Linked DNA regions of Homo sapiens: all the other regions are linked to region 1. The links come from fine-mapping of genetic effects on gene expression. A gene starts in region 1. Each other region holds a variant in brackets. All regions are shown on one strand. Distances are from middle to middle.

Region 1 (2,846 bases):
AAGGTGTTGAAGAAAGCCCGCCTCTGCATCTTGAAAGCTGATTCCTATATCCAGCAACATTGAAGAAGACTGCAGATCACTCTGGGTGTCAACTGCATGTACCTACATCCATCGCACCAAGATTCTTGAGTGCCAATCACAGAAACCCACCTGGAAGTCAGGTCCAGCTCCAAGGATGGTTTAACTGCCCCCTTCCCTTTGCCCTCTAGCCAGACCCTGGTGAGGGTTCCAGCCAGCAGGGTGACCCCACATCCCAGTCGACCCCGGACAGGCCCCAGGCCCGTTGTCCCAGGTGGAGTTGACAGCCCCCTCATGCAGAAGGCTGTGTGTGGACTGGCGCTGCCCCTGCAGGCCAACACTGGGAGACCAGGGACCCGCATTCGCCTGCAGCCAGCCTCACACTTGCGCAGAAGCCGCCACTGGGCCCAGGGCCAGTCCAGACCCCATCCCCAGGGCCGGCCAGCCTCTGTGACCCGTCTGTCAGGGGAGGGGCAGCACTGATTTCCAAGGATGCAGCCCGTATCAGGGCCTCCTGGCACCTGCCCTGCGCTGGAAGATTCTTCTAGTCTCCCGGCCCCAGTGTCAGAATTCTGAGAACTGGCCGGGCGCGATGGTTCACTCCTGTAATCCCAGGACTTGGGAGGCCAATGTAGGCGGATCACCCGAGGTCAGGAGTTCGAGACCAGCCTGGCCAACATGGTGAAACCCCGTCTCTACTAAAAATACAAAAAAATTAGCCGGGCGTGTTGGCGGGAGCCTGTAATCCCAGCTAAAGAGGCTGGGGCAGGAGAATCACTTGAACCCGGGAGGCAGAGGTTGCAGTGAGCTGAGATTGCGCCACTGCACTCCAGCCTGGGCGACACAGCAAGACTCTGTCGAAAAAAAAAAAAGAAAAGAAAGCTGAGAATTAGGAGGAACTGCAAACCCTTTCCAGGCGCCCTTTGCAGTGCTAACACGCCCCGGGTTGCACGCGCAACCAGCCAAAAGCCGCCAAACTCTGCTTCTTGACATCCTTCTCTCACACTGCACAGCTTTCAAAACGCCAGAAGCCCTGCTCTGCACAGCGGCTCCCCTGTCTGCGGACTGGGCCGTTCCGTTCTGGACCCAGGCCGGAGGCCGTGGGCTGCACCGCTCCAGGAGGCCAGGCTGGCGCGCGCCCGAGGCCGGGGCTGAGGGGGCGGCGCGGAACTCGGGCCGCGTGCGGGAGCGCCACACGCCCGCCAGGGGGCGCCGCCCGCCCGGCCCCGCCCCGCCCCGGCCCGCTCCGCACGCTCCGCTCCGCACGCTCCGCTCCGGGACGCCGACGGCGGCGGGCGCTTCCGTCTCGCGGGCCTCGGCCCGGTGCGAGCGGCTCCGCGATGTGGCTGAGCCCGGAGGAGGTGCTGGTGGCCAATGCGCTGTGGGTGACGGAGCGGGCCAACCCCTTCTTCGTGCTGCAGCGACGCCGGGGCCACGGCAGGGGCGGCGGCCTTACGGGTGAGAGGCGCGCGGGCGGCCGGGCCTGTGGGCGCCGCGGCTGGGCTGGCGGCGGGGCTGGCGGCGGGCGGCGGGCGGGTCCGGTTCCGGCCCGGCCTCGGCGCGTCGCGGCGGACACGCACGCCAGCGCGCGGCGGGGCGGGGGCGCGAGGCCAGGACCCGGGAGCCGGGCGCGGAGGGGCCGGGGCGGGGAGGCGAGGGGCTGGCGGGAGGCGAATGCGCCCTCGGCGGGCTCTCCTCAGGTCGGCTTGGGGCGGCCAAGTGGAGACCGGCGGCGGCTTCTGCCCGGATTCGGCGCCCGCGAGCCCCGGGGGCCGTGCAGCTTCCCGGGATCTCACCGCCGAAAGTTGGCGAGACCGCCCTGTCCTCATCCTCCACCTCAGTTTCCCCAGGTGCCTCTAAGGGGCCAGGTGACGCCAGCGCACGTTTTCTTTTGCCCTCTTCTTCGTGCCCATCTCACCAAAGTATCGCCCTTTTAGCAAGATCAGAGGTCCCTGGAGCTGGCCGCACCCCCATTCCCCCAGCTTCTCCTCCCCCACCTTTCCTGCTCCTGGCTGCTCTCAGAGCTGCGCACCCAAGGCTGTGGGTAGCGGCACAGGGTGTTCCTGCAAGCTCGCCAAGGTGGCCCTTTGTGGGCCCGGGTGCCACCATCACACAGGATGAAGCTGGACAGGCACCCTTGGAGTCGTGCGGCCTGTGGGATCCAGGGGAGGCCCACAGGCCACTCCCTCCGCAGGTGGTGTCCGGGGCCCCTCATGCTCCAGGGCCTGCGCCCAGCACTGCAGGAGCCCGGCTGGCTCGGGCTCAGTGCCTGTGCTCTTCGGGGCACCGACTGTTGCCCTACAGGATTGCGGTCCCAGTGTTGCCAGGTCGTCCAGTTTATCAAGAGCATTTTCTGTGAATCATCCTGATTTTCAGTGTGAGCAGCTAATAGCCAGATGCAGACGGAGGCTTCTCCTGGGCCACGTTTCTTCATGTGGAAGAGACTGTTCTGTTCCCAGAAACACTCAGTGTTCCCTTCAGCTTCGGGTTCCCTCCCAGTGGGCTTCAAGGATCTCGGGCTCCTGTTCTGGACCCGCCTCCTAGATCCAGCTGTTCAGTCGGCAGCCCCTGTGGCTAACCTCGAAGCTACTGCAAGCCCGATGAAGAAAGCGAGGGACCGGCACCTTTTCTTCCGCCAGCGCGCCAGGGTGTCATCAGCGCGCCAGTGTGTCATATTCGCTGGTGTACTTGAAACACTTGTGCTGTGCTCGGCAGGCTTATGTGGGTCGTCTCATTGAACGGGCGGGTGCAGGTGCAGCCCGGTCTCTGTACACCTCCTTCCTGCGGGCTCTTCTCCTTTCCACCTCACTCTCCGTGTCCCCTGGGAC
Region 2 (2,500 bases), 150 kb before region 1:
TTACAGCCATGAGCCACGCACCAGTTGTAATGGTGATGGTTGTTTTTTAACCCTTTATAGTAGCTAAAAAGAGAGAAGTATCAGCTCTACCAGTTTATTTTTGCTGGGGTTTTTAAAAAAAGGCATTTGTCCATTTGATGAGGGACAATTTAGTAAAAAGTGGATCATTTCGTCTGTAAATCCTGTAACTGAGTAGTGTATGGCTATTATACTGTTGGCAGTATTATCTGAAAACAAACGGATGAATGAGAGAGTCACTACCATCCCTGTTGCATTTCAGAAATCCCTCTCTTTATTTAGGACAACTGGTATACCACATGAGACAGACAGACACACAGACACATACGCGTGCGCGCGCGCACACACACACACACACGCACACACACACAAAGTCATCTGACATTCAGGTTGAGGAAAGCAGCCAGTGTTAATCCTTAATTAAATGCCAGTAAAACTTAACTTACTTCTAGCTGGGCATGGTGGCTCAGAGTGACTCCTTCTCAAAGAAAAAAAAAATTGCATTTTTTGTTTGTTTGCTGTTTTTTTTTGTTTTTTTTTTTTTTTTTTTTTTTTTTTTTTTTGAGACAGAACCTCACTCTGTTGCCCAGGCTGGAGTATAGTGGCTCGATCTCAGGGCCTGGCTAATTTTTGTATTTTTAGTAGAGATGGGTTTTCACCATGTTGGCCTCAAATTCCTGGCCTCATGAGATCTGCCCGCCTTGGCCACCCAAAGTGCTGGGATTACAGGTGTGAGCCACCACTCCTGGCCAAAATTTATTTCTTGTTACCAATAACCAGCAGAGTAATTTTTTAAAAACTCAAATACATTTAGGAACACCCATAGATAAAAGATCAATAAAACAAAAATTAAGTCAGTTGTAGTTCTATATGCCAGTAACAAACAATTAGAAAATAAAAATTTCACAATATCATTTAAAGTAATATTGGCACTGAAAACTGCAAAGCACTGTTGCAAGGAATTAAAGATGTAAATAAACAGACTTTTCATGTTCATAGGTCCAAAGACTTGTTTTGTTAAGGTACCTGTGCCCTCCAAATTG[A/T]CCTACACATTCAGACCATCCTGTGAAAATACCAGAACTTCATATGGAAGTAAAAGGGACTCACAGTAGTCAAAACAATCTTGAAAACAAATAATAAAATTAAGAGAATTCACATTTCTCAATTTGAAAACTTACTACAAGACAGTGTGGTACTGATAGAGACATGGTAGATCAGTGGAGTAGAACTGAGAACCAGAAAGAAACCCTTTTGTCACTTGATTTTTGAGAAGGGTGCCCAGACAATTCAATAGAGGGAAAGAATAGTCTTTTCAGTAAAGGGTGCGGGGACAACTGGATATCGGAGAAGTTAGAGGGAGAGGGAGGATGCGAAAGGAATGTGCATTGTCTCAAAAGCTAAGTGGGCATCTGCATCTGACCCTGGCCTGGAGGGTGACATGCCACGGGGTGGAAGGAATTCTTTGCATTTGGTGATATAATGCAAAGTGCCTAGAAATTGGGAAGAAAGCGATTGTATCATTTTTTAAGTTTGCAAATCCTAGGACAAAGAAAGCTGGGTCGTTACAAATCATCTCAAGAAACAATATGAGTGATTAATTGAAGAAACCAGCATGAATGCATAAGATATAAACAGCTGTTCTACTGAAATGAAGTAAAAATAGGTAACAGAGAAACCTATTCTAAGAATGTATTTGCTGGCCGGGCGCAGGGGCTCACACCTGTAATCCAGCACTTTGGGAGGCCGAGGCGGGCAGATCACGAGGTCAAGAGATGGAGCCCATCCTGGCCAACATAGTGAAACCCCATCTCTGCTAAAAATATAAAAATTAGCTGGGTGTAGTAGTCCCAGCTACTCGGGAGGCTAAAGCAGGAGAATCGCTTGAACCTGGGAGGCAGAGGTTGCAGTGAGCCGAGATCGTGCCACTGTACTCCAGCCTGGGCGACAGAGTGAGACTCTGTCTCAAATTAAAAAAAAAAAAAAAAAGAATGTATTTGCTTTTTTACAGTCTCTGCACTCATTGTCAGTGTCATGTAGCCGTGCTTGTTGCAGTTCTCAGGTTATTCTCTGTGGTAGAGAAAGCAAAAGCAAAAAAGTCTTGAGAAATGTTTCCATCCATCATTTAGTTGGCCCTGGGCAGTAAACCTATTTCTTTCCAACTCTTCTTGCTCTGAATATACTTAAAAAAATAATAAAACTTTTGTGAGAAGTAGCTTTGCTTGTTCCTATCATTACTGGCAACCTTCAACTTTCTGGGCTTTTTAAAGAAAAGCTGTGTAAGCCTGTACCATCATCTTGTGTTTGCCTTTTCAGGTTTTGTTTGAGTCCTCCTTAAAGCTTAATTTGTCTTGTGTGTTCTTGCTGCTTTCTTCATAAAATGTGTCATTTTCTTTCTCATCAAGATGATTTGTTACTGAGCTTTGTTTGCCCAGGATTTTGTAAACTCTGAAATGATACGTTGCTTTCTTCCATGTGACTTGTC
Region 3 (2,846 bases), 23 kb after region 1:
ACTTCAGGTGAGAGGGGAAGCCAGTGAAGAGTCATGACCAGAGGAGGGCACGACCTGTTTACGTGTTAATGGGGTTACTGTGGCCGTCCATGTTGACAGTGGATTAGAGGTGCCCCGTCTAGTACAGCAGCCACGTGTGGCCATGGAGCACTGGAAATCCAGCGGGTGCCAATGGAAATGTGCTGTGAGTGTTCAGATCACTGTACACGGGTTTTGGAGACTTCGTATGAAAAGAAAAACGTAAAATACCTCCATCTTTTTTTTTTTGGGGGGGGGACAGAGTCTTGCTCTGTCACCTAGGCTGGAGTGCAGTGGGGCAGTCTTGGCTCACTGCATCCTCTGCCTCCCAGGTTCAAGTGATTCTCCTGCCTCAGCCTCCCGAGTAGCTGGGATTACAGGCGTCCACCACCACGCCCGGCTTATTTTGTATTTTTAGTAGAGACGGGTTTTTGCCATGTTGGCCAGTCTGGTCTTGAACTCCTGACCTCAGGCGATCCACCTGCCTCAGCCTCCCAAAGTGCTGGGATTACAGGGGTGAGCCACCGTGCCTGGCCACTCCATCATTTTTTAATTGATTCCTGTTGAAATGCGAGTATTTTGGATATATTGGATTAAGTCAAATATATTGTTAAAATTAATCTCAATAATTTACTTTAGGACTTTACAATGTGGCTACTAGAAAATTTACAATTACATTTGTGGCTCTCATCATCTCTCTTGGGCAGTGCTGGACTAGAGAGTGGCAAGAATAGAAGCAAGGAGGCCGGCTGGAGCCCATCACAGAAGCAGGGGCACAAGATGATGGAGTCGAGCATCAAGGGTAGGAACAGTGTAGGTGTAAGAAGGGGTCAGATTCAGGAGACGCTATTGTGATAAAATACACATAACAACATTTACCATTAAGTACATTGACATTGCTATGCCATCACCACCATCCATCCACAGAACTTTTTCAGTTTTGCAAAACTGAAACTCTGAACCCATTAAACAGTAACTCCTCAGCCCCCACTCCCCCAGCCCCTGGCAAGCACCATTCTACCTTTTTGACTTGAATTGAACTATTCTAGGTAATGCACATAAGTGGAAGCATATAGTATTTTCCCTTTTGTGCCTGGCTTATTTCATTCAGCGTGATGTCCTCCAGGTTCAT[C/T]CCTGTTGTAGCGTGCTCAAGATTTCTTTTTTAAGGCTGAATCATATGCCATTGTATGGATAAGCCACGTTTTGTTCACTGTTGAAACTTGGACTGCTTCCACCTCATGGCTATTATGAGTAACACTGCTGTGAACATGGGTGTACAGATGTCTGTTTGAATCTTTACTTTCAGTTCTTTTGGGGACATACCCTGGAGTGGAATTGCTGGATTGTATAGCAGTTCTATTTTTAATATTTCAAGGAACCTCCGTGCTATGCTCTATCCACCAACTGTGCACCACAGTTGGAGGCCAGACCACCAACTGTGGCATGACTCTGTGCAGACACAGAGCCAGTAGCTGTGCTGAGGCAATGGCGGGAAGGAAGAGGGGCTCTGATAGTCCTAAGAGCCAAGGAATCCAGAAGTCACCAGAATACCCCTCACAAGAGACTACTCAGCAAATGGAAACCTCAACAAGTGAATCTGAGAGACAGCCAGTGAAATTGGGAGCCGATTTCTCAGGCTCCAGTTTATAGAGGAGGCTTTTTTTTATTAATGGAAGCACAAAATCCTGCTTTATTTCTACCCACAGCCTTATCGCTGCCTGACGTATTATACGGCTGAGGAAAGATCAAGAATGTGAGGGAAACCCATGCCCTTAACAAAAACTTCTCTTCTGAAAGACAAGAGCTCACCCCAAGAAAAAAAGGACTGGGATTGAACAGAGCAGGAACACTTGGGGTAAAGGAGAAAAGCTTTAGATACAAGAAAGAGGTGGCCAATCCCAGAAAGTACAGGAGCAAGGACTACACAGACCGACCACAGCAGGGGAAAGGCCTCTCCAGCTGTGGAGTTCAGAAAGCTACTCTGACCCACAACTGCCCGTACGTAGAACATCCTGCTGAAAGAACAGGAAAAGATGCTGATCACACCCTGTACAAAGATATTGCGGGGAGAAAGTGAACCAGATAACCTCCCACAGATAATGAAAGCACACCAGAAAAACATTCCTCCAGGCAGATGAAAACTGTGTCCTGATGTTTCTGAGTGATCTCAAAGGAATTAGAAAAACGACAGAAACTACTAAAGAATGGTATAAATTAAAAATGTTTAAAAAGCTCAGGTTAAAAGTGACTAGTCAACAGAAAAATATGAAGAGAGTTGACAGGACTCAGGAGGAAATAAGAAAAAAAAAACCAGATATTTCTGAAATGAAAATCAGGAACACAAGAATGAAAATACATTAAGGTAAATAAGGAAGAGATAGGAGAAAAATGGAGTCAGAGGAGACTCAAACAAATAGAGAAGAAGTTGTCCAGAGAAGGGATAAAGAAGTTAGGCAAAGAAGATCAAACTTACGTATAATCGTAGTGCCATCCCACACCCTTCCCAGAAAAAAGCAGTGGAATAACAGATAATAGAAACTGTGATTCAGGAAAACTGATAAAATAAGCTTGAACTTGTATAGTGGAAGGACACATTGAATGTCTAGAAAAATCAACACAAAATAGTCGATATTGACATAAAATCTCATAAAACTGTTCAATTTTAAAGATTAAAAAATTATTCCAGGCTGGGCACAGTGGCTCACACCTGTAATCCCAGCACTTTGGGAGGCTGAAGCAGGCAGATCACTTGAGGCCAGAAGTTCAAAACCAGCCTGGCCAACATGGTGAAACTCTGTCTCTACTAAAAATACAAAACTAAGCTAGGT

The links. PIP is the estimated chance that this variant, and not a neighbour inherited with it, causes the effect.
Region 2: its variant is fine-mapped to the expression of TBC1D9B in whole blood (INTERVAL, PIP above 0.99).
Region 3: its variant is fine-mapped to the expression of TBC1D9B in ovary (GTEx, PIP 0.99).

What each region holds. Positions count from the first base shown.
Region 1 is chr5:179,906,334-179,909,179 of GRCh38, reverse strand. TBC1D9B (TBC1 domain family member 9B) reads left to right here and starts at 1,283. Exons shown (of 21, transcript NM_015043.4): 1 at 1,283-1,476. The coding sequence starts at 1,359. RefSeq lists silencers at 1,132-1,291, 1,362-1,421, 1,432-1,571, 1,622-1,671 and an enhancer at 1,552-2,329.
Region 2 is chr5:180,053,330-180,055,829 of GRCh38, reverse strand. All of the region lies in intron 1 of RNF130 (ring finger protein 130), which reads left to right. Among named protein-coding and RNA genes, the nearest start is that of RNF130, 17 kb to the left of the region's middle. The variant A/T (reference allele first, on the strand shown) is at 1,062.
Region 3 is chr5:179,883,016-179,885,861 of GRCh38, reverse strand. The region is part of intron 7 of TBC1D9B (TBC1 domain family member 9B); the gene reads left to right. Among named protein-coding and RNA genes, the nearest start is that of TBC1D9B, 23 kb to the left of the region's middle. The variant C/T (reference allele first, on the strand shown) is at 1,151.